Linked DNA regions of Homo sapiens: all the other regions are linked to region 2. The links come from fine-mapping of genetic effects on gene expression. A gene starts in region 2. Each other region holds a variant in brackets. All regions are shown on one strand. Distances are from middle to middle.

The links. PIP is the estimated chance that this variant, and not a neighbour inherited with it, causes the effect.
Region 1: its variant is fine-mapped to the expression of PDGFA-DT in whole blood (TOPMed, PIP above 0.99).
Region 3: its variant is fine-mapped to the expression of PDGFA-DT in whole blood (TOPMed, PIP above 0.99).

The regions. Positions count from the first base shown.
Region 1 is chr7:602,572-610,575 of GRCh38, reverse strand. PRKAR1B (protein kinase cAMP-dependent type I regulatory subunit beta) reads left to right here. Exons shown (of 11, transcript NM_001164760.2): 5 at 3,124-3,185; 6 at 4,337-4,383. PRKAR1B-AS1 (PRKAR1B antisense RNA 1) reads right to left here and starts at 7,731. Exons shown (of 2, transcript NR_110054.1): 1 at 7,279-7,731; 2 at 2,074-2,711. RefSeq lists enhancers at 5,569-5,928, 6,199-6,308, 6,243-6,928, 6,989-7,038. The variant C/T (reference allele first, on the strand shown) is at 3,382.
Region 2 is chr7:516,187-524,190 of GRCh38, reverse strand. PDGFA-DT (PDGFA divergent transcript) reads right to left here and starts at 3,800. Exons shown (of 3, transcript NR_033963.1): 1 at 875-3,800; 2 at 1-111. It overlaps PDGFA (platelet derived growth factor subunit A), which reads left to right and starts at 4,345. Exons shown (of 6, transcript NM_033023.5): 1 at 4,345-5,252; 2 at 6,701-6,797. The coding sequence starts at 5,190. RefSeq lists silencers at 1,241-1,550, 1,871-2,010, 2,131-2,210, 3,876-4,215, 4,316-4,405 and 3 more and enhancers at 1,866-2,787, 4,632-5,553, 6,476-7,398.
Region 3 is chr7:620,038-628,041 of GRCh38, reverse strand. All of the region lies in intron 4 of PRKAR1B (protein kinase cAMP-dependent type I regulatory subunit beta), which reads left to right. Among named protein-coding and RNA genes, the nearest start is that of PRKAR1B-AS1, 21 kb to the right of the region's middle. The variant C/T (reference allele first, on the strand shown) is at 3,675.

The DNA.
Region 1 (8,004 bases), 86 kb before region 2:
CATTCGGGCATTAACATTTCCTCTGAAGAAAAATGGGGCTCCCAGACCTTTTTGGTACACGAGGCTGGGCTCTCTGGGCTCTGCTGATCACAGAGAGTTGGGGACTGTGTTCCTCCGTCCCTGGGGAGATGAGGGACACCTGTGTGGCCAACGGAGCAACCCAGTGAGGCTCATTTAAGAGGCACTCCAGGAGGGGCTGCTCTGAGCGGGGCCACGCCCAGGCACCTGGGTGTGTGGAAAGTCGGCTTTCATTGATACCAAGGACTGAACAGCCCCCTCTGGAGACTGAAACCTCCCAGGAAGGGTTTCAGCCCACCCCTGCCTTTGCTTAGGCTGTGGTAGAAGCACGTGAGTGGAACGTGAGCCTCGAGTCACTGGGGTGCAGCCACATTGACCTGCCCCCTGTTCATGGGGAGTTCTGTCATGTCCATCGTGGCCCAGCGTGTGATGGCAGGAACCAGAAGCACTGGAAACGTCCATCTGGGCAGGAACAGGTGAAGGAGCGAGGGTTTTCATATAGAGAATGCCAGGCAGGGCGGGTGCAGCGGCTCATGCCTGTAATCCCAGCACTTTGGGAGGCCAAGGTAGGAGGATTGCTTGAGGTCAGGAGTTGGAGACCAGCCTGGGCAACATAGCGAGACCCATCAATTAAAAAATAAAAAATAAAAATAAGCAGGCGTGGTGGCACGTGCCTGTAGTCCCAGCTACTTGGGAGGCTCAGGTGAGAGGACACCTTAAACCCAGGAGTTGGAGGCTGCGGTGAGCTGTGATCGCACCCCTATACTCCAGCCTGGGCAACAAAATGAGACCCCATCTCTTAAAAGAAAAAAAAGAATACTAGGCAGCTGTAAAAGGAGCAAAGAAGCTTCCAGATTTATGTTTTCACCCAGGTGCATTTCAGAAAATATGGGTCAGGAGGGAGAATAGAATTGTGAAAGGGTATCTTTCTGTCAGTGATATGCAAATGATGCAGACACCACTGGAAATGCACGCTTTTCACGGGTGCACACGTGTGGTCACGGATGCCCATGTGTGAAGTGGAGACGCATAGCAAGGGTGGTGGAGGCAGCACTTGCCCTCCACACCTGGGCCCGGAGGAGGCTGGAGCCGCAGCTGTGATGCTGGACAGTTTTCCAGGAGAGAGTGGTGGAGGCAGCAGGGTCCTGAGCTGGGTGGTGGGGGGTACACAGTGTCCATTTGATTACTTAAGGCATTTAATGGAATATTTTACCATTATAAGTTGAAATATTTTTTTAAAAAAGAGGGAGGAATTGTAAAATGATTTCTTAAAGGTCTGTTCATTCTGAGAACCCATACTTTGTGGTTTTGAAGAAATGCAGTTTAGAGAACGGTGCCAGGGCGGCTCCTGCAGATGCGTGCACCAGGGAGGCCGTGGCCAGGAAATGTCCCCACCGGGGCCAGGTGCCCGGGACTGGGGCTGGGGCAGCATGGCCAAGCCCCACCACCCATGGGCGGAGAGTGGAGGGCCCCCAGCTCTCCCTACAGCCCTGCCACCCACTGACCCCTCCCCAGGTGGGAGGACAGTGGAGGCCCCCCGGCCCTCCCTACAGCCCTGCCACACACTGACCCCTCCCCAGGTGGGAGGACAGTGGAGGCCCCCCGGCCCTCCCTACAGCCCTGCCACACACTGACCCCTCCCCAGGTGGGAGGACAGTGGAGGCCCCCCGGCCTTCCCTACAGCCCTGCCACACACTGACCCCTCCCCAGGTGGGAGGACAGTGGAGGCCCCCCGGCCCTCCCTACAGCCCTGCCACACACTGACCCCTCCCCAGGTGGGAGGACAGTGGAGGCCCCCCAGCCTTCCCTACAGCCCTGCCACACACTGACCCCTCCCCAGGTGGGAGGACGGTGGAGGCCCCCCAGCCCTCCCTACAACCCTGCCACACACTGATCCCTCCCCAGGTGGGAGGACAGTGGAGGCCCCCCAGCCCTCCCTACAGCCCTGCCACACACTGACCTCTCCTGCAGTTCTGCCTTCCTCCCGGAGGAAACAGGAAACTGAGTTGCCAGGGAAGTTGGGAACAAGGACTCAAAAAAGAAGCACTTCTTAAATAGAGAGAAAACAACCACTATTTTAAGAATGACTTATTTATGGACCCTGGAATCAGGAGGGTCAGGGCTGTCTGGATCTTTGATTTCATATTTGTTTCCTGGGTGGCTCAGCCCCCATCCCTGGGAGTCAGGGTGCACCTGTGGGCCCGCAAAGGTTTCCAAGAATCTCCTTTTTAAGTAATCAGGGCAGGCAGGAGGCCACCCTCGGAGTGTCCCCGTGGGTGCACTCCCTGCCTGGGTCTCTGGTTTCTCTGCGTCACATTGTGGGCTGAGTGCTCTTTGAGGGGTCTGGTCTCCGAAGGTGGTTATTGCATCTGTTAATAAGAGTGTGACGCTGGCACCGTGTTCTGGGGTAGGTGCCTCTCTACCTTCCTGGCCGACAGGTGCTTCCCCACTTGTCCCGGGTGCCTCTGCCAGCTCCCCCATGCCCCTTGGGTCCTGTCTGCATGGTCCATTTCACATCCAGATTTGGAACATTGGACAGCCAGGCTTCCTGGTTGGCGCAGCCCTGAGACTCGGCCTCACCGGCTTCGAGTTTGCGTGTCATGAAGGGTCTGTGTTTTCCACAGAGAGGTTCCGAATGCACATGTCACTTCTGTGTCAAGGGTCCCAGGCTCCTTCGACTGAAAGTGTTCTCCCTGAAAGGAAAACAATGCAGAAAACATGTCATCAAGATTGCTGGTTGTATTCTAGTAGAATTGTATTTACCGATGGGAGAATGTTCACAATCTATTGTTACTTTTGTTTTTCTAAATGGAGTTCAAAATGCATGTATGGCATGACCCCATTTTTGTAAAAACCAAAACAGCAAACTGCGTCTGTGCACAGAACAGAAATGGGGCTGGGAGGTTGTGTGCCCAGGGCTGGCGGTGCCATCTCTGGCCTTCGGGTCATGAAGGATTTCAATTTTCTTCTTTGAACTCTCATGGATTTTCTCATTTTCCCCAATGACTGTGAAGCGATTTACACAAGACTGTGAAATGAGGGGAGGAAGGGTTTAAATGTCCCTGTGCTGCCTGCAGCCCTAATTTGGCGTGTTTTGCTTTTCAGTGACATATTCGATGCCATGTTCCCTGTCACTCACATCGCTGGGGAGACTGTTATACAGCAAGGTACGTTCTGCCTGCTCCTCGGAGCCAAAGTCCAGAGGGGAAAAATGGACTATGCACTTAAAAAAAAAATAGCATAAGGGCAGGCACGATGGCCCACGCCTGTAATCCCAGCACTTTGGGAGGCTGAGGTGGGCAGATCACCTGAGGTCAGGGGTTCGAGACCAGCCTGGTGGTCCAGGTGACCAGCATGGTGAAA[C/T]CCTGTCTCTACTAAAAATAAAAATTAGCTGGGTGTGGTGGCGGGTGCCTGTAATCCCAGCTGCTCCAGAGGCTGAGGCAGGAGAATCGCTTGAACCTGGGAGGCGGAGGTTGCAGTGGGCTGAGATCACGCCATTGCACTCTAGCCTAGGTGATACAGTAAGACTCTGTCTCAAATTTCAAAAGGATATATATAGACTTGTACATACATACACACATATAATATGCATATATGTCTACATATATATGCACGTATATGTGCACACATATGTGTGTACATGTATACATATATGTACACATATATACATATGTGTGTGTATAAAATAGATACATATATGTATAAAACTAAGTAAATATAAAATATATACATATGTATAAAACTAAAGTAATATAAAATTATACACACACACACACACACACACACACACGCATAAAATTCTCATTGTGAGGCCGGGCGCGGTGGCTCACGCCTGTAATCCCAGCACTTTGGGAGGCCGAGGCGGGTGGATCACCTGAGGTCAGGAGTTTGAAACCAGCCTGGCCAACATGGTGAAACTCCATCTCTACTAAAACTACAAAAAAATTAGCTGGGCGTGGTGGCAGGTGCCTGTAATCCCAGGTACTCCAGAGGCTGAGGCAGGAGAATCGCTTGAACCTGGGAGGTGGAGGTTGCAGTGAGCCGAGAGCCTGACTCCGTCTCAAAAAAAACAAAAAACAAACAAAAAGAAAAACACCTCTCATTGTTTAGAGAAAGTTCACTAATGAAACTTAAGAACAGGCTCTTTAACAAGTTATCTCAATGTTTGTATAATCTTGTCATTAAAAAGAATTGGTAGCACCCAGGATGTTGCTTCGAGGGTCTCTGCAACAGTGTTGCGAAAGTCGTTTGCAAGAGAAACTGTAACTTGTATGTCTGGATGTACTTTGTATCTGTTGACTTTCTTCTTTTGTTACAGGGAATGAAGGAGACAACTTCTATGTCGTTGATCAAGGGGAAGTGGATGTGAGTGTCGCTAACTTGTCTTTGGAAAATAGCGCGTCTTTGCATGTCCGGTGTGAAGACTTGCCCTCCAGGCAGCACCAGGCCCCCAACAAACACTGCGCTGAGTGCCGTATTCCTAGTGTTTTAATCCAGAAATGCAACTGCTATCTCTTGGAAGAGAATATGGGAATATGAGAAAGTGCAGAGGGAAACAAGGGTGATGCTGGCAGGTGCCGGCAGCGGCCTCAGGTTTTCCAGGGCCGCTGTCTTCCGCTTGCCCCCGGGCTGCGACTGCTGGGGCTGGCCAGGGCGGTTCTGTTTGACCCAGCGCCGTCTCCAGATCCGAGGCCGATGAATACACCAGGCTCACCCACCACATGGGATGTTAACATCTCAAAGTGGGTGGGAGAGCGACGTGCTTAGAGACCCCCTAGGACCGACGACTTCACGATCAAACAACGGCTGCCTTTTGCGCCTGCGTTTGGCTCCCAGCTTGGAACGTCCCAGCCGTGAGTCGGGTCTCACTGTGTCATCTTCCCACGCTTGTCTCAAGAGCATCTTTTATGAGATGCTCCCACTGTTTTGGAAGGAGAAGCTTCCCCTCCGCTGGAGACCCCGTCTCGTGCCCGATGGCCAGGCCATGTGTATGTGTATGTATAAAATAGATACATATATGTATAAAACTAAGTAAATAAACACATACACACGGCACATGACATCACCCCTGGCCCCGCAGCCCAGTCTTGCCCAGAGCCTCTGGCTCCCATCTCTTCTGCCGTCCGGTTTAGAGCCTGGGTGCTCTGGTGTGAAGGCTTTGAGGCCCCCTCATCCCCCGCTGGGCTCCTGTTCTGCAGGCCGCCCCCCGCACGGCAGCCTGACCTTGCTGGTGCGGAGCTGATGGTGCAGCCTCTGGGAAAACGCCCGCTAGGAGTTTGTTTCCCTTTGAATCAGGCCCGAGCCCCTGCGGAGTCAGCGGGAAGGACCTCAGTGACATCATCCTCCCTCGGTTCCTGGAATCCGCCTGCACTGGCGGCCCCAGGGCCTTGGTGTGTGTCCCCTGCTCTGCCGGGAACCCCGTTAGCTCCTGCTTCTCCTTCTGCTCTCTGCTAAATGTCACTTCCCAGTGGGCATCAGCAGACATGTCCCACGCCTCCCTCGTAGGACCCTCTGCGGCTCGTGGTGATGACATCTCATGAGACCGTCTCTTTACGGCCTTTCTGCACACAGACTGGAAGCCCCCACAGTGCAGGACGCTTTGGGGATTCTGCTACCCGAGACGGTCACTGCTTCCCAGGCTGGCTGAGTCTTCTCTGGGTCTGGGATGCCTGCCTGCCCTTCTCCTTGTCCGCCTGCCCTTCTCCTTGTCCACCTGCCCCAGGAGGTGGCCTCCGCACTCTTCCGTGCAGGCAACGCCACCCCCGGCTGCCCAGCACGAGCTATTTCGAGGTCTGGCCTCCGGTGGCTGTGCCTCTGTCCCGGCCACGCTATTCTGGGGAGGGCATTTACTCATTTGTTTCCGTGGCAGCCGCGGAGTCTGTCCCCCATCGCGCTGTGTTTCTGGGAACCTGAGCAGGCCCACTCTGCTTCCGGAGCTGATAGCACAGGAAATGACTCAGGGGTCCCGCCTCCCCGTGGGGGGCACGTGCCTCGGGCCTGGCCCGCGCAGGCGGAGAAAGAGCCAGTTTCTCTTCTCCCTGGTGTGCTCTGTCCTGAGCCGGAACCCACGGGCTGGGCCCCTAGACAGGGCCTCTGGGGCAGACCTTTGTGTCAGGGAGTGGGGGTGCTCCTGTCTCCCCTAGAGATGGAAACTGAGGCAGGTGCCAAAGGTCCCGGGTACTGCCCGGCCTCAGAGGAAGTGTGGAGGGGGAAGGCTGGAGGGCGGCACTGGCGGGTCAACCCTGGGCTCAGCTGCCAGGCCGCAGAGTCATCTCCTGCTGGCTTTGCTTCGAGTTTAAAAAAAGCCTAGCCCAGGAAATAGAGAAGACAGAGGAGGATGCGGCCAGCATCCCAGCCGGGCATCGTCTTGGGGCCTGGGCCCGTCCCAGGAGGTGGCCCCGTTGTGCCTGGTATCCAGACACCAGGGCCTGATGGGGGGCTGCAGGGAATGGGGCTCAGCCCCCAGCAGATGGGGCAGGGCTGATCCCAGAGAGACCCTGGCAGCCCAGGCCTGCCCAGTGGTCAGCAGTGCTGAAGGCAGAGCCACCTCTGCGGGAGGTATGGGATGGGCAGCTTCCTGACTGGACCCACCGCTTTATCCCAGCCCCAAATCTCATGCTACTACTTATAGCCCCTCTTCTAGTTCACACTCTGGGTCCTGGTGTCACCGTGTCACCTCCTCCCCCGCCCTGTCCATTCTGGGTCCTGGTGTCACCATGTCACCTCCTCCCCCGCCCTCTCCACTCTGGGTCCTGGTGTCACCTCCTCCCCCATCCCCTCCACTCTGGGTCCTGGTGTCACCTCCTCCCCCACCCTCTCCACTCTGGATCCTGGTGTCACCTCCTCCCCCATCCCCTCCACTCTGGGTCCTGGTGTCACCGTGTCACCTCCTCCCCTGCCCTCTCCACTCTGGGTCCTGGTGTCACCTCCTCCCCCATCACCTCCACTCTGGGTCCTGGAGTCATCATGTCGCCTCCTCCCCTGCCGTCTCCTTCCTGGATGTTTATTGAGTGCCTGCTTTATGCCTGGCACTTGTGACGAGGAGGACCTGGTGCCTGCTCTGGTGTGGGGGAGGTTGTGGCTTAATGGGGGAGAGGGACCAAGAACAGGAAATTAGCCAATGAATGTCCTGACTCTGGTTCTGCCCCTCCTGTCCCCTCTGCTTTCATTCCTGCTCTGCCTCACAAACTCCTACACATCCTACAAGACCCCGCCAGGCCCAGCTCATCTATCTGCGGCTGGGCTTTGATAGATACTGACCTCCGCAGATGACCGAGGACCTGCCTCCCTGCGGTGGGCCTGGGAGCTCCATAGGTCCCCACTGAGGCCTTTCCTCCCCTGTGGAATGCTTCTCCCTCTTCTGTGTCTGCCCATGTCATTCAAATCTTCCAGTTAAATTCCAAAGGCATCTTCAAGGTGCCGGTTTGCATCGGCAGGGCTTGGGGTTGAGGCCACCCCCAGGAATTCTGCTTTCCATGTTCTTTGCTTCTCCTAAATGAACAGATGTGGAAGAGACAAACCCTTTACCCAGAGATCCCTTGTGGAGCCTGAAACCGACATGGGGCTCCCAGGTTATGTTCCCGCCTAACTTGTCGTGTCTCGAGGAGGGTGGTGGACGGGTCAGGATCGCGTGGACTCGGGACTCAGAGGACCCAGGCTGTGTTCTTTGCTGGCCGTGACCTTTGCCCAGGCCCTTGTGTGGCTGAGCCGTGCCATTTCCATATTACTCAGAAAAACGAACAGAGCTCACTGCTGCCGGGAAGACTGAGATAACCCTCCTGGGGTTCTGCTCTTGGCCCCTGGTGTGGAAGCCATTGGCCGCCTGGCAGCTGCCCCGCCCCGTCTCATGTCCCCAACACACGCACCGCAAGAGCCTCGTCCACCCCACAGAGGAAACGCCCACCACCCACGCCCCGGGCTTGTCCTCATCTTCAGCGCGGGTGGCCACCCTCCTGCCCCAGCGCCAGGCCCCAGCCGGCAGCATGC
Region 2 (8,004 bases):
GACTCTCGGCTTTCGTTTCTTGAAGCCTCCAAACATCCTTTCATACATGTCTTCATTCACAAAATGTTCACACAGTGATAGTGGGCTCCTGTGCTATTTTCAACTTCATTTCTGTTTGTGTATTTAAAATAAAATGATTTAATAGGGAGTTAAAACAACATGGAGAGAGAGCCTTCCCACCCTGCTGGCGGGGCAGTTATCTCCCTTTCTGGAGAGTGTGAACTGGAAAGGCCTGATCCCTAGTCGCTGGGGGCCTGAGATAATGACTTAATTAATGCCTGCGCTGGGCAGTTTTGATCTTCAAGGAGTCCAGCCCACTCGGCTGGTGTTGCTTTTGGATTAATTGCCTAGGACGAAGAAAGCCTTGCCCAGAGATAAAGGGAAACGTGGGGTTTCGTCATTACAAATTGTTCTGAAATCTGCTCTGGCGCTGGGGGCAGAGGCCAGGATTTGGGTGCTCAGCTGGTCCCCCCACCCCCAACCCAGGTGCAGGCAGGTGGCCAGCAGGGCGCTTGCCCAGGGCACGCTAGCGCAGCTTTTCCTGGGCAGGTGGGCAGGAGGGAGGCTTCCCGACAGTGGAGGCAGCTGTGTGCAGTGACGGCAGCTGTGTGCAGTGACGGCTGTGGGCCTCACGCTTTTCAGATGAGGGAACAGACACCCAGGGCAGTCTAGGGACAGAGCTCACCAAGGCCAAGGTCAAGGGGCAGAGAGCGGAGGGAACTGGCCTCTGCCCCCCTCCCTGCACCTTGGAACTGGGGATCCAGGGGGTGTTGGCTGCCGCCCCTACTCCTGGGTGGCCACAGCGTCTTTCCTGTTCCTGCCTGTACACCCCACGTACAAATGCCCCTGCGAATTGAGGATAGTCTATATTTACCGAGGTTGCAGAGGTACCCCTGGGGTGCTGAGCCCCGCTCCAAGTCTTCGCTTAGAGTTGATGCGTGAGTGTCCATGAAATTATACAAGGAAAGAGCTTGGCACCTGGCGCCATCGACGTCGCTGTAAATGTCAGCCGTTACTACTACTACTAAATAACAACGACGGCGATCGCTGCGTGCCTGCTGGTGCCAAGCCCCGGAGGGGCCCCGGACACGCAGCCTGGGTGGGGATGGGTATGAGGGGGCAGCGCTGGACTCGGCGAAAGTTTCTTCCCCTCTCCAGTCCCCTACCCAGAGGAATGGCCAAGGCCTTTCCCGCCCTCCCTGGGTGCCAGGGTCTTGGGGAGGGGCGGGAGGCAACCAGTCCCGGGCAGACGTCCGGCCACCCGCCCCTGCTGCGCGACGGCCCCCCTCGCTCGGCCTATTTGGGGCACCTGACTCACGGTAATTATGAGCCCGCGGGCACGTCGGGGCGCGCCGGGAGAGGCCGGATGCACCGGCTCCGGGGGCGACCGGACATCCCAGGCCGCCAGGTGCACCTTGCTTCCCACCAGCACCTCCCCGCACCCGCCGGGAGCTCCCCGCTGCTTCCGCCAGGGGCCCCGGGCTCACCTCGGGGCGCCCACGGACTCCCAGACGCGCGCCTCAGCATGGGGTGCGAATGTTTCGGGGGCGGCGCGCGGGGCGCGTCTGCCTCCCGCACAAAGCCAGGCTCTGTCCCGGGGTCAGCGCCTCTGTCTCCCGGGCCTGGGCGGGGACGCCCACGCCTCCTCCGACGCGGGAGTATATTTAGCCTCATTATCAAATGTTTGCAGTGAACTGTGTGAACCGACTAATAGCGGCTGGAAGTGAAACTCGATTCCTGGCCAGAAAGAAGCATGTGACCGCCCCCGTCTGCAAGGATCGCGGCAGGGCGGGCGGGGCAGGTGCCGCAGCCTCCGCGCGCAAAACCCGCCGGCGGGGCCCGGGTCGCACCGTCCCCTCCTGGGCCGAGCACCTGAAACCCACCTCGTCCCTCCGTCCCCCTCCCCAGGGGCTGCAATGAGGACGCTGGGAGTTTGAATGGAAACGAAGGCCGGGGAGGGGGGTCCGCGCGGGCGTGGGTTTTTTATCCAAGTCGGTGACCTCTTGGTTAAGTCAGCCCTGCGGTTTCAACGCCCAATCCCCCCAAAAAAGCCTGTGGGGGTCCACGTCTCCTTGTGTCTTCCGGGGATCCGGCGGAGAATGTGGCGGGGCCGGGCAGGGGGGTCCCAGTCCCACGCCGGGTGCGTCGTGCCCCGAGTCTCCCCAGAAGGCGGCTGTCGCGCGGCTGCACAAGTTTTCGCCTCCCTCGCGCGGCCGCTGTTGTTGTGGTCGCCATGGCGACGGGTCGCGGTTTTATTTTTAATAGCGGCCGGCGATTAGAGAGATGCCTGCACCGCTTTCGCCTAAGCTCTGCGTCCCCCGCGGGTGAAGCACCCACGCCCCGCCCCAGCCCCCGCCTCGCTCCAGCGCCCCTTGCACGTCCCCAGGTGGCCCTAAACTCTAGCTGGGCGCACCCGTAGCTCCAGGCCGGGCAGGGGAGCCGAGGGAAGCAGCCATCTAGGCCCTCAGAGGCGGCGAGGACCCCCAGGATCCCTCAAGCTGGGAGGGACGGGTACCCCATCCCCAATACAACGCGACCTTCCTCCTTGCCTTCCACACCGTCTTACCGAGTCCTCTAACCCCACAGAGGTGTCCTCGGGCCCCCTCTGCGCGCGAGCAGTCCGAGGCCCAGGAAGACAGGATGCGCGCCACTCCGGGATAACTGGCCGAAGAATGAGGCCGGGGTCCGGCCTGCGTCCTGGCCCTGCGAGTCCGGCTCTTTCCAGAAGCCATGCAGTGGGTGTCCCCTCCCAAGCCGCAAGTTCCCCCTGGAGGGACAAGGCCTGGCTTTAAGGGGCTCCTCCACGTTTCCAAGGCTCCCCTGGTTCTGTCCCGGTCCCGCTTGGTCCTGACCACCCAGAGGGCATGCTTGACCGCGGGGGTCGTGGTGTGGGGCTGCGGCCAACGGAAGGGAGAGACGTGGGGAGGGGGCCTGCAGGTGTGTGGAAGGGCGCGTGTAGACGCGACCCACTGGGAGCGGAGGGAGAGGCGTCGCTCCCCAAATATTTGGGGGAAGGGGAGAGCCCCCGAAGCGCTCTCCGGATTCGGCCTTTGAAATGCTAGAGCTGGCCTAGCTGGGGATGAAAGACCGCCCGCGGGGCTGCGCCTTAACGGCCTTTGTCTGGAGGGAGGGCGACCGCGACGGGGGCAGGGGTTTAATCGACAGGGTTGGGGGTGACGGCTGGGCCGGGCGGGATTCTCCGCTGCTCACCCAAGGAAGCGTCTCCTGGGCTCCAGGGGCCTAGGCCGTCTAGCCTCGGGGTCTGCACAGCACGCCACCCCGCTGGACCCGGTACCAGGACGCGTAGACCCCCTGGCAGGGCACTGACGAGCACCTGGACCTGTAGTCAGGGTCCAATCCCTCCTGGTCTAGGGAGGCGAAATCCATCCAGCCCAGGCGCACCCGCCCTTTCTCGGCGTGGGAGCCGTCTAGCCACGCTCAGACCTCGGCCTCCGCGCGCGTTCCTCCCCCGCATCGCGCTCTGAGCTGCGCCTCGGCCGGAGGTGGCGCTCTGTGCGCCCCACGGATCCCGACGCGGGAGGCTCAGAACCCGGGGGACCCTCACCGGTGGCTCCTTTCCCTTCCATCCCCTCGACTTCCCGGCTCAGGGCGCGGCCCTGCCTTCGGCGCGGGAGTGGGGGACTGGGGGGCGCGGGGTCCCAGGGTGGGGACGAGGCGGGCTGCAGGCCCTTTCCCCGACTGGAGCTCGCTCCCAAGTGGAAATGTGGGTGGAGGGTCCTCATTCAGATGCCCCAGGCCTCGGATCCTGGGCGGGGGCGCGTGGCAGCCGCCAGGTGAGTGCCCCAAACCCGCCCCCCTCCTTCCCCAAAGACTGACTCCCCCTCCTTTTATGGAGAGAGGAAGGCTGGGGCCCTGGATCCGAACCGTGGAGAGCGGCCGGAGCGCCGGGGCGGGGGCGGGGACCGGCTCTCTGGCCCTTTTTGGCGCAGCAGCTCTGGGCGCTGCCCGCTGCCGCCGCTGGGGCCCGAGAGAGGCGAGCCGGCGACGGCGGCGCTTCTGCGGCGGCCTCCTCCCTCCCCACCCGGTGCCGCAGGATTGCAGCTGGCACTGGAGGGTGGGCAAGCTCGAGGGAGGGGCGCGGAGCCCCGGCGCGGAGCCGGGCGCGGGGCTTTGATGGATTTAGCTGCTTGCGCGAGCGCGTGTGTGCTCCCTGCCGCGGCGGCGGCGCCCGGGCCCTGCCGGGTCCGCACGAACCCCGAGCGCTTCCGAGGTGCGGGTCCCAGGCCCGGAATCCGGGGGAGGCGGGGGGGGGGGGCGGGGGCGGGGGCGGGGGAGGGGCGCGGCGGCGGCGCTATAACCCTCTCCCCGCCGCCGGCCGGCTCCACACGCGCGCCCTGCGGAGCCCGCCCAACTCCGGCGAGCCGGGCCTGCGCCTACTCCTCCTCCTCCTCTCCCGGCGGCGGCTGCGGCGGAGGCGCCGACTCGGCCTTGCGCCCGCCCTCAGGCCCGCGCGGGCGGCGCAGCGAGGCCCCGGGCGGCGGGTGGTGGCTGCCAGGCGGCTCGGCCGCGGGCGCTGCCCGGCCCCGGCGAGCGGAGGGCGGAGCGCGGCGCCGGAGCCGAGGGCGCGCCGCGGAGGGGGTGCTGGGCCGCGCTGTGCCCGGCCGGGCGGCGGCTGCAAGAGGAGGCCGGAGGCGAGCGCGGGGCCGGCGGTGGGCGCGCAGGGCGGCTCGCAGCTCGCAGCCGGGGCCGGGCCAGGCGTCCAGGCAGGTGATCGGTGTGGCGGCGGCGGCGGCGGCGGCCCCAGACTCCCTCCGGAGTTCTTCTTGGGGCTGATGTCCGCAAATATGCAGAATTACCGGCCGGGTCGCTCCTGAAGCCAGCGCGGGGAGCGAGCGCGGCGGCGGCCAGCACCGGGAACGCACCGAGGAAGAAGCCCAGCCCCCGCCCTCCGCCCCTTCCGTCCCCACCCCCTACCCGGCGGCCCAGGAGGCTCCCCGCGCTGCGGGCGCGCACTCCCTGTTTCTCCTCCTCCTGGCTGGCGCTGCCTGCCTCTCCGCACTCACTGCTCGCGCCGGGCGCGCTCCGCCAGCTCCGTGCTCCCCGCGCCACCCTCCTCCGGGCCGCGCTCCCTAAGGGATGGTACTGAATTTCGCCGCCACAGGAGACCGGCTGGAGCGCCCGCCCCGCGGCCTCGCCTCTCCTCCGAGCAGCCAGCGCCTCGGGACGCGATGAGGACCTTGGCTTGCCTGCTGCTCCTCGGCTGCGGATACCTCGCCCATGTTCTGGCCGAGGTTGGTGCCGCCCCCGCGCCCCGTCCCTGCGCCGGCTCCTCCGGCGCACACCCCCCGCCGGCTGGGGCGCCACGGGCTCTGCAGAGAGCGTTTTGGTTCCTGCCAGGGTGGTCGATGTTTAGATTTTCCCAACTGGGTTCTATTTTCTGCCATGCCTAAGTGTGTGTGGGGAGTTTCCAGCGTGTTGCGTCGGTCGCTCTGCCTCGGGGGGACCGGGGAGCAGCGAGGTGGACGAGTGGGCAGAAACTTCGGGGGGCGCAGTGTCCTCTCCGGGGAAGGGGAGCTGGGGCGCAGCGGGCGCTGCAGCAGCGGGGTGCGGGGAGCGGGGAAGGGGGTGTGTGTGAGCCGGCGGAGCCTGGGGAGGAGAGAAGGGCGGCGGATAAATAGGTAGGGGCGGCTGCTGCGGAAGCCCCTGGCCGGGCAGGGTGGGCAGCGCCAAGCTGCAGCCCTCGGTTCCCAGTCCCCAAGCCCGGCGGGGCTCAGGGCCGGCGCAGTCCCGCCCGCCCGGGCCTGCTTACAGGTGGCTGAGCGAGGCGAGCTGGGGCTGGGCCAGGCGTCCGCACCCTCCCACCGCGGCGTCCCCGCCCCCCCATCCCCATCCCCATCCCCATCCCCGGGAGCTTTGCTGTGATGAATGACTTTCCACAGCCCCCGTCGTGGGAACTTAGTGCTTCAGGCTCCCCAGCGACCCCCGACTCTCCTTAAAAATCGGGGAGGGGAGTGGGGGAGGCCAGAGGTGAGGGTGGTCTCCGCAGGGCACGGAGAGCTGCGCGAGGTGGAAGTTTAACCCTCGCTTTCCCTGGAGGCTTCTTCTCCCGGCCGCCGGCTGGATTTGGGCGTCTTAGTCGGCGCTAGGGCCGCGGCTGGGCCGGAGCCCGGGGTGGGGCGAGTGTGTGAGTGAGATGTGTGTGCGCGTGTGTGTGTCTGCGCGCGCGTGCGTGTGTTTGTGAGACGGAGAGACCTCTCCACGGGTTCGGCCCGGGATTCCGGGGCGTGAAATTTAAGCCCTGCCTGGATTAAAGTGTTAGGGCTGCCGTGACTCTCGCCGACCCGTGACGCATTTTAACTTGATCTTTCTAGATGTTGATCTCACTATTAAATCAGAAACTTTCGGCCCCCTCGCTGCCCCCTAGACCTTCTGTAACTGACACCCCGGGTGGAGGGGCCGGAGTGCGGGGGCTTTTGTCTGAAAATATAAAGGGGGGGGGGCTTTGATTTTGCAAAGGGCGGAACATGGATGCGGGTGGAGAATTTGGGGTCTCTTCCAGCCCCACCCCCGGCTTCTGGTTCCAGGGCCGGGGCGAGGGCTCCGCGGGGGCTGGGGCGGGGACTGCGGCCGGCGCTCGCGGGGTCTCCTCGGGCCCGGGGCGGCGGCGCTCCTGGCGGCCGGGGGCGCGTGCCGGCGGGGTCGGGGCCGCGGGCGCTGACCGTGTGGCCTCTGCTTGCAGGAAGCCGAGATCCCCCGCGAGGTGATCGAGAGGCTGGCCCGCAGTCAGATCCACAGCATCCGGGACCTCCAGCGACTCCTGGAGATAGACTCCGTAGGTAAATCGCGCCCCTTCCCTCCGCGCGCGGGGAGGGCGCGGGCGGGCGGCCTGTGCGCCCCGAGCTGGGGCCGGGCGGGGCGCCGCGCAGGAGCGCACCGAAAGGTCAGAATCCAATCCCCAGCCATAAGCGCCCGGGCGGATGAGTCAGGAGTTTCTCTTCCAGTCTCCACTTTCTCTCCCAGCGGCGGCCGAGGGCTGCTCGCTCGCCCCGGGATTGTTTTCGCCTTTAAGGAAAACGCCGCGTGTGTCACACAAAGTTCAGCCGCGGCCTCCGCCAGGTGTGCGGGCCCCGCGCCTGCCCTCGGGCCGGGGGAGCGGCAGGATCCGGCCCAGACCCTGGGCGCAGAGCCCTGGCCCGTGCGCCGGGCGGGCAGCCCGCGGAGCGAGGCCCCAAGGGCAGGCGCGGCTCCCGGTCCGACGGGCGGGCGGGCGGAGGCGGCCCCCGGGTCAGGGCCCGGCCCCCTCTGTAATCCCTGCGAGCTGGTGCCGCGTTCTTGCCGCAGGGCTGGGCCTCTGTGGCTGCAGAAGCCGGTGTCTTTCTGTTTTCACGACCCAATGAAAAGCCTTGGACGCATCTGCTGCCTGGGGGCTATTTTTGCGGCTCACCCTCGGGCCCTGGGGCCGGGCCACTAGAGAACACAGCTTGTTTGCAAGCACAGAGTTTTGCTGCGGGTTGGCAAGGGTTAAAGGGGCCTCTCACCCCGGGGGACCCCGGTGGACCACGGGTGGGTGGGAGGGGCGAGGGTGTAGGGTGGCCGCCCGCCCGCTCAGGGCTAGAGAGCCCCTTCCTAGAAGGCGAGGTCTCTCTTCCAGGCGTGCGTGGCGCTCTTTTCAAAATGAGCACTCGGCCTGGGAACTCCAGTCGGAGCCTTAACCTGGTTTAAAAAGGGGCTCTGCGATGAACTTGTTAAAAAGAGTAACTAAAGGCAGCAGAATTGGAAGAAGTTACGTGACATGAAGATTCTTCTCTCCCTGCAAAGGACTCTGAAAAAGGGGGGGCATGCGGGGATTAAGTGAAATCACATGGTCTAGTCATTTGGAAATTTGTACCTAATTATGGTGGTGGAGAGGCCTGAACTATTTTCGTTTCATGCCAAAACCATTTTCTAACAAGGCCGATGGTTTCTGTAGTTTCTTGACCCAGGAAATCCCTGGGCTGATCCTTATCGGGGGCGGAGGGTGGGGGGTGCGGTAGAGTTTCACTC
Region 3 (8,004 bases), 100 kb before region 2:
CCCCCCACCGCTGTCCCCCTGTGATGAGGCCTCGGCCTGTGTTTGTTCCGTGAGTGACAGTCAGAAGGGCCCCACCCATTCGATGTTCACCCCTGTTTTGCTGGTGCCTTTATGAGACAGGGGCTGTGTGTGCCCCATTTCCCGGCAACCTGGCGCCCAGCACAGACCTGCCTGTACATAGCGGGCACTCGGAAAATACCAGTGAGGGCCGAGTGGAGTTGAGCGCTGGCAGTCGTGGCCTGGATCTTCCAGGCTGCCTGAGCCTGAGTGGCGGGTGCTCACCTCCTCCCCCAGTGCCCGGGGAGGGCGGGCGTGAGCTGGGCGGGGGGCTCTGGATGGAGAGCGCCCGAGCCCCTGCCCACCCTGGGGGGTGTTGGTGCCCTCCTTAGGAAGGGACAATTGGAAGTGCCCTCTGCTGTCAAGCTCAGTACTGGGGTGCCCCGGACGGTGTGATATTTGGCCTTGCAGTCCTGATGGATTGGGGGGGTCAGCCGTGTAGAGTGCCGGGTGGCGTTGGCCGTGGCTGTCCGACCGCCTGGGTCCGCACCTGGCTCTGCCCTTTGCAAACCCTCAGGCGTGGGGGAGTCATGAGTTAGTCTCGGCCTCAGTGTCCCGTCTGTAAAATGGGTGTTGTAAAAGTTCCAGGTGAGAGTGAAGTCCTCAGAAGGACCCTGTGAGCTCTTAGGGAACCCTGGATCCCTCGGCCCCCACCGCTACCCTCCGCCAGTGCTGATTAAAATGTTATCTTTTGGGGCCAGGCCCTGTGGCTCATGCCTGGAATCCCAGCACTTTGAGAGGCTGAGGCGGGATGGTTGCTTGAGCCCAGGAGTTTGAGACCAGCCTGGGCAATGCGACGAGACCCCATCTCTACAAATAAATAAATAAAAATGCCTGTAATCCCTGCACTTTGGGAGGCCGAGGTGGGCGGATCACGAGGTCAAGAGATTGAGACCATCCTGGCCAACATGGTGAAACCCTGTCTCTACTAAAAATACAAAAAGTAGTTGGGCGTGGTGGCGGGTGCCTGTAGTCCCAGCTATTCGGGAGGCTGAGGCAAGAGAATCGCTTGAACCCGGGAGGCGGAGCTTGCAGTGAGCCGAGATCACGCCACTGCACAGCCTGGGTGATAGAGTGAGACTCCATCTTAATAAATAAATAAATAAAAATTAGCTGAGCATGGTGCTGTACCTGTAGTCCCAGCTACTTGAGAGGCTGAGGCGGGAGGACCGCTCGTGTCCAGGAGGTCAAGGCTGCAGTGAGCTATGATCATGCCACTGGAATCCAGCTTAGGTGACAGAGACCCTGTCTCTAAAAAAAAAAAAGTTCACTTTATCTTTCCTTTTTTTTTTCCTCCAAGATCAGATTAATTTGTTTTCGTGTTAAAGCTGTCCTCATAGAATTATTTAGGAAGTGTTTCATCTGCTTCTATTTTCTGAAGCTAATGTAGAGAATTGGTATTATTTCTTCCTAAATATTTGGTAGAATTAACTAGTGAACACATCTGTGCTTAGTCCTTTTTTGTTTTTATTTTTGTTTTTTGTTTCTGAGAGACAAGGTCTGTCTCTGTCATCCAGGCTGGAGTGCAGTGGAACAATCATAGCTCACTGCAATTGCCAGCTCCTGGACTCAAGTGATTCTCTGGCCTCATCCTTCCAAGTAGTTGGGACTACAGGTGTGCACCACCAGGCCTGATTAATTTTTTTAAAATTTTTAGTAGAGATGAGGTATTGCTATGTTGCCCAGGTTGCTCTCAAATGCCTGGCCTCAAGTGATCTTCCTGCCTCAGCCTCTAAAAGTGCTGGGATTACAGGTGTGAGCTGCTGTGCCCAGCCTGGGCTTGACGCTTTTTGTTTTGAAAGGTTAATAATTACTGATTCAACTTCTTTAATAGATACAAGCTTGTTCAGATTATCTGTTGCTTCTTGTGTGAATTTTAGTAGATTGTGTATTTCAAGGAACTGGCCCATTTTATCTGAGTTATCAAATGTGTAGTCATAGAGTTTTTCTTTCTTTCTTTTTTTTTTTTTTTTTTTGAGATGGAGTTTTGCTCTTGTCACCCAGGCTGGAGTGCAATGGCGCGATCTCGGCTCACTGCAACCTCTGCCTCCTGGGTTCAAGTGATTCTTCTGCCTCAGCCTCCCCAGTAGCTGGGATTACAGGTGCCTGCCACCATGCCCAGCTAATTTTGTGTATTTTTTACTAGAGATGGGGTTTCACCATCTTGGCCAGGTTGGGCTCGAACTCCTGACCTCAGGTGATCTCCTGCCTCGGCCTCCCAAAATGCTGGGATTACAGGCATGAGCCACCGTGCCTGGTCTCATAGAGTTTTTCATAATATTATTTTATTTTTAATGTCCATAGGACCTGTAGTGGTGTCCCTTGTCCATAGGACCTGTAGTGATGCCCCTTGTCCATGGGACCTGTAGTGATGCCCCTTGTCCATAGGACCTGTAGCGGTGCCCCTTGTCCATAGGACCTGTAGTTATGCCCCTTGTCCATGGGACCTGTAGTGATGTCTCTTGTCCATGGGACCTGTAGTGATGTCCCTTCTTTCATTTCTGAAGTTAGAGATGCTTTGGCTGCATCGATTTTCTTTAGTATTTTCCTATTTTCAATTCCATTTATTTCTGTCTTAATTTTTATTCTTACTTTTCTTTTTGTTGCTTTGGATTTAATTTCCTCTTCTTGTTGTAGTTTCCCAAGATGGAAGCTTAGGTTGTTGATTTTGGATCTTTTCCTAATATATGCATTCAGTGCTATAGATTTCCCTCTAAGTGTTGCTTTTGCTACCTCCTGCATATTATGATAAGCTCTATTTTCATTTTCATTTCGTTCAAAATATTTTTCAACTTCTCTTGAGCCTTCTTTTTTGACCCATGCATTATTTAGAAGTATGTTATTTAATCTCCAAATATTGTGGGATTTCCTATCTATCTTTCTGTTACTGACTTCTAGTTTAATTCACTTCCGGTGTGAGAGCATGCACTATATGATTTCTGTTCTTTTACATTTGTTCAGGGATATTTTATGGCCCAGAATGTTTTCTCTCTTGGTAAATGTTTCATGTGAGCTTGAGAAGAATGTGTAGTCTGCTCTTGTTTGATGAAGTCTGTAAATGTCAATTATTTCCTGTTAACTGATGGTGCCATTCAGTTAATCTATGTTCTTACTGATTCTCTTTTTTTATTTCCTGTGTATAATTTTTCAAACTAGATTACTGATTTTCTGCCTGCTGGATCTGTCAATAACTAGCTGAGGGGCGTTAAAGTCTTAAACTATAATGGTGCATTTGTCTGTTTCTCCTTGCAGTTTGATCAGATTTTGCCTTATGACCCATTTTTAAATTTAATAGGCCTATAGTGACCATCATCCAGTCTCCGTGGATGTGTCTCCACATCACTGTTTTTTAATACCTCCTTGTGTTCCATTCTGTAACTTAATTAACCAATCACCAACTATTGCATATTTCAAACCTTCATGGCTACAAGCAGCTCTGTGATAAACAGCCTGCTAGCCACATCTTATATATTTTAAAAATTGCTTCTATAGAGGAAATGCTAGGGGAAAGAAAAACCCATTCAAAGAGCATGCACTTTTTTTTTTTCTTTTTGAGATGGAGTCTTGCTCTGTTGCCCAGGCTGGAGTGCAGTGGCACGATCTCACTCAATGCAACC[C/T]CCACCTTCTGGATTCAAGCGATTCTCCTGCCTCAGTCTCCTGAATAGCTGGGATTACAGGCACATGTCACCAAGCCTGGCTAATGTTTGTATTTTTAGTAGAGATGGGGTTTCCCCATGTTGGCCAGGCTGGTCTCGAACTCCTGACCTCAGGTGATCCGCCTGCCTCAGCCTCCCAAAGTGCTGAGATTACAGGTGTGAGCCACCATGCTTGGTCAGCATGCATATTTTTAAGATAAAAGTTTGCTGTCACCAACCTAAACCTGCGGGTGCTGGTCTTCATCCAAAGTGGATTCTGATTCAGAAGCTCAGGGCTGGCGTGGGTATCTGGGGATACTGTGAACATCCAGGGCTGGACGCCATGGCCAGTGGCATGGACTAGCAATTCTGGTTGGAAGCCCAAGAATGTACAGAAGGAATTTGCCATCCTCCACCTCCTTCCCTAGATCCACAGGGTAGAGCGGACACTTGGCTTGTACCTCCCTTCTGGGACTCCATAGGTTCATTCCATACCCTGAACCCTGGCCATTCACGCGCTTCTCTCTCCAATGCCAAGAAAACGTTATTCAGTGACGTGTGTTAAAGCATGGCATGGAAGACTTCATTCTGGACCATTGCACTAGGTACAGGGATCACTGCAATGGGGTCTTGCGGTGGAGGAAGGAGCTTGGGCTTGCCTCCGAATATGAGATGAGAACGTGAGAATTTCCACCTAAGTGGCAGTGGATGGAAAATGACCGAGAGGAAACACCAGGGGCTGGGGGGTTCTGGCTTCACTGACCTAACAGGATTGTTGCTGAAGAGAGGCCAGGGTGACCAGACATCCCCCATGGGGTGGTGGGTGTGAGGAGCCTGATCAGACACTGAGGATGATCAGATATCAAAGATGATCACATATTGATTATGGTGGGTGATCGGTTCTGGCTGAACTGATTTGGCAGGATTATTTTACAAGGAAGTACAGATGGGCCTAGAAGAAGGTTCTGGAACCTGACTAAAGTTTGGCCAGAGAGAGAATTGTTGTTACCACATGTTTGTGGTTAGGAACCAGACCCACAGTCAAGAGTGTGGCCGAGGGTCCCAGGGGATTTGAGAACACCGTGCTGTTGGCACCCCAGCCGGGAGCAGGAGCTCTGCTTTCCATGATGCCAGGACTGAGTTATTGCTATTTAGAGAGAATTTTTTGGAAACTTGTAGTCAACAGAGTCACGGAACAAGCCTTCACCTAAACAGTGGAAGAGGCTAAACACAAGCCAGGATGCTGTGTCTGGGGCGCTGGGATCCCAGCAGATGGGAACCCTGGGTCTTGGGCTGGGACAGAAGAGATAGGACCGTGATGCCAGCACCCAGGGTCTGCCCAAGGGTTTAGGCCACTTCCTTTCCTTAAATAACATTGACCTAAGGTTTAAATCCGCAATGGAGAGAGGTTCTTCCCCAGCGAGGGCAGCATGTCTAGGTCTTTCAGAACCACTTCTAAAGGAGGACAGACTGAGCAGGCCACTCTTTCCCCCTGGATAGCGTCATGTTGAAAAACATAAGAAGTCAGAAAAACATATTAGTATGCGCTGGAACAAGTGTTCTGCCTTCAGCGGGGTCCTTTTTGGTAAATGTTCTGTTTTCTTCACTCATCATTCCCGTCTGCTCCTTGTCAATACACATATGCACATTCTCTGCAGACCTACTGTTGGTGCATATGTGCCTCTGTGTGTTCTGCTCTTTGACATCATGGGAGGGGGAATAACAACCCGTGTCCTGACTCTGACATCCCCCTTCCATCCCTAGGAAGGTTCAAAGATTTTCAAAATAGAGAGTTGAAAAAAACTAAAGATCAGACATGTTGGAAGTGCTAATAACTCAGTTTGCCTTCTTTATTACTGGATACGATCCTAGCACATTCATGTTCTCCCAGGTCAATGTCATGATGCTTTTGTTTAAAAGTCACAAAAATTCTTTATTTCTTTTAGCCTCAGGCAGACATTTCTAACATACAGAAATGCAGATTGTTGGAGCGGGAGGAGTGAGCGGGAGGCCCTGTGTGGCGCGGGGGTCCTTGCTGCCACCCCTCACCTCGCTGCTCTTCTGAATGCATGCCCAGCCTTGGCAGGCACCTGGTGCTCGGGTCTGAGGTGCAGCTTTGAGGGGCTGTGGGTGCCCATCCTTTCTGTTGTCCCCCTTAGGTGGCCTCGGCTCTGAGAACTGGCTGAACCTGTTTGCTTCAGCAGGTTTCTTTGCATGGGTGAGGGCGGGGAGGTGTTTACCTGTCAGGCCACCTCTGGCTGCAGTTCCACAATATATTAGCAATGTAAGCCAACAAAAAGGAATAAAAAAGCCAGAGTGGTGAAGAGACTGGCTGAGATCGGGGCATGGGCCGCTCCATTTGCATCACTCCTGGGGGATTCTGGGACATGTGTGACCCTTCTAGCAGCACTGGGGGAGCGGCTGCATGGGGTTTGGAACCAGCAGACACTATGGCAGCAGCTGCTGACCGTGGGAGCCCCTTATTCTGCTGAGTGCTTCACAAGCCTCATGATCACTGAGTCCTCCCTGCTGCTTTAGAGGCTGAGAGTGTTACTGTGCCCATTTTACAGATGGCTTAACTCTTCAGAAACTCAGTCCCCTGGGTCCCTCCAGGCAAGGTTGGGACTTGTACCACACATGATGAGGTGATGGCCAGGAAGCATCTGTCATGGGGATGACCCCACCTGCTGTGACATCACCCCACACAAGCATCTGTCACCACTGCTCAATAGTGAGCCCCTTAGGGAAGGGTTGCAAACTCGGGATCCTGGGGGTTCAGGAATTAAGTGGAAAACGTGGAGTCCTTGGGAATTGTGGCAGATTGGAGATGGTCATGCTCCTTCCAAAGTGGGGGTGAGCTGAATTCTTGCTTTGGGAGTACAAGGTCCCTGTGTTGTCAGACTTTTCTTTTTATTTTCTTTTTTCAAAGGAAAGCCAACAATTTGGATTTTATGAATTTTGTAAATTTTTAAATATTGGGAGATGATTTTGAAAATACCATCAACATTGGCACATGAATAAATAGAAAACCTGAAGAGATCTAGAAGCATTAAGTAAGTTGAAATGGTAACCAAAGACCTTTCCTCCCAAAGGGTTCTTTCTGATGGTTTCACTGGTTGAGTTCTTTCAAACATCAGCAAACTGTCTATTCTTACTTCTCAAATTGCTACAGAAAATAGAAAACAAGAGGAAGCTGCTAGATCATTGTATGTACTGTACTGTGATCAGGTGGAGATGATCCAGAATTCAAGGATGGTTCAACCTCAGAATACTCTATCCATGTAAATCACCATATTAGTAGATTGTAGAGAAAGAGCATGTGACATGTCACATAGGTGTTGGAAAAGGTTTTGACAAAGCTCAACAACTATTGCATAAATTCTTAGCAAACTAAGAATAGGGTCACTTCTTAACTTGGTAAAGGTCATACATACCCAACACAGAGCAAACATGCTAATGGAGAATCTTTGGCTACATGCTCTTTAAGGGAGGGACCACAATGAGGCTCTGATGGCTTTCATGGTTTAACTGTGCTTGGGAGGTCCCGGCAATGCTATAAAGAAAGAAAAATAAGAGGAGTCCTAATTGGAAGGGTAGAGAGAAGATGAATTTGATCATGTCTATGGAAACCAGCATAGAATACACAGAACAACTCTTACATTCTTATGAGTGTTCAGCAGGGTTGGTGCAAGCTCAACTTACAAAAATCATCATTAAGAAGCCCAAGGAATCCATAAATAAATATACACAATTTTTCTTTGTCAATTTAAAGAAAATTTAAAAATACGGATTCCTTCCCATCACAATGAAGATATTAAATCTGTCTCAACAGAAAGAAAGAGAGAAAAAAAAGAGCCCAAGGGGCTGGGTGGGTGCAGGGAATGAGAAAAGAGACACAGATGAGGAGTAACTGGAGAATAGAATTTGAAAGGATGCCATTCATGAGGGCAACAGCCACTGAGAAGTGGAATGTGCTTGACAACAGATTACAGAAGACTCTAGGGAGGAAGTTTTAAACCTCTATAAGGACATAAAACACGATCTGAATAGGGAGAGGCGGTCTGTATTCTTGGGTGGAATGACTCAACGTGATGATGTCATTTCTCCCTCACATTAATCTCTACCTTCAAAGCAGCTCCACTTCAAATTGCAGCTGGAATATTGTGAGGCAGTAAACACATTCGGAAATGTGAATGAGCTGGGTGCGGTGGCTTATGCCTGTAATCCCAGCACTTTGGGAGGCTGAGGTGGGAGGATTGTTTGAGCCCAGGAGTTTGAGACCAGCCTGGGCAACACAGAGAAACCCCATCTC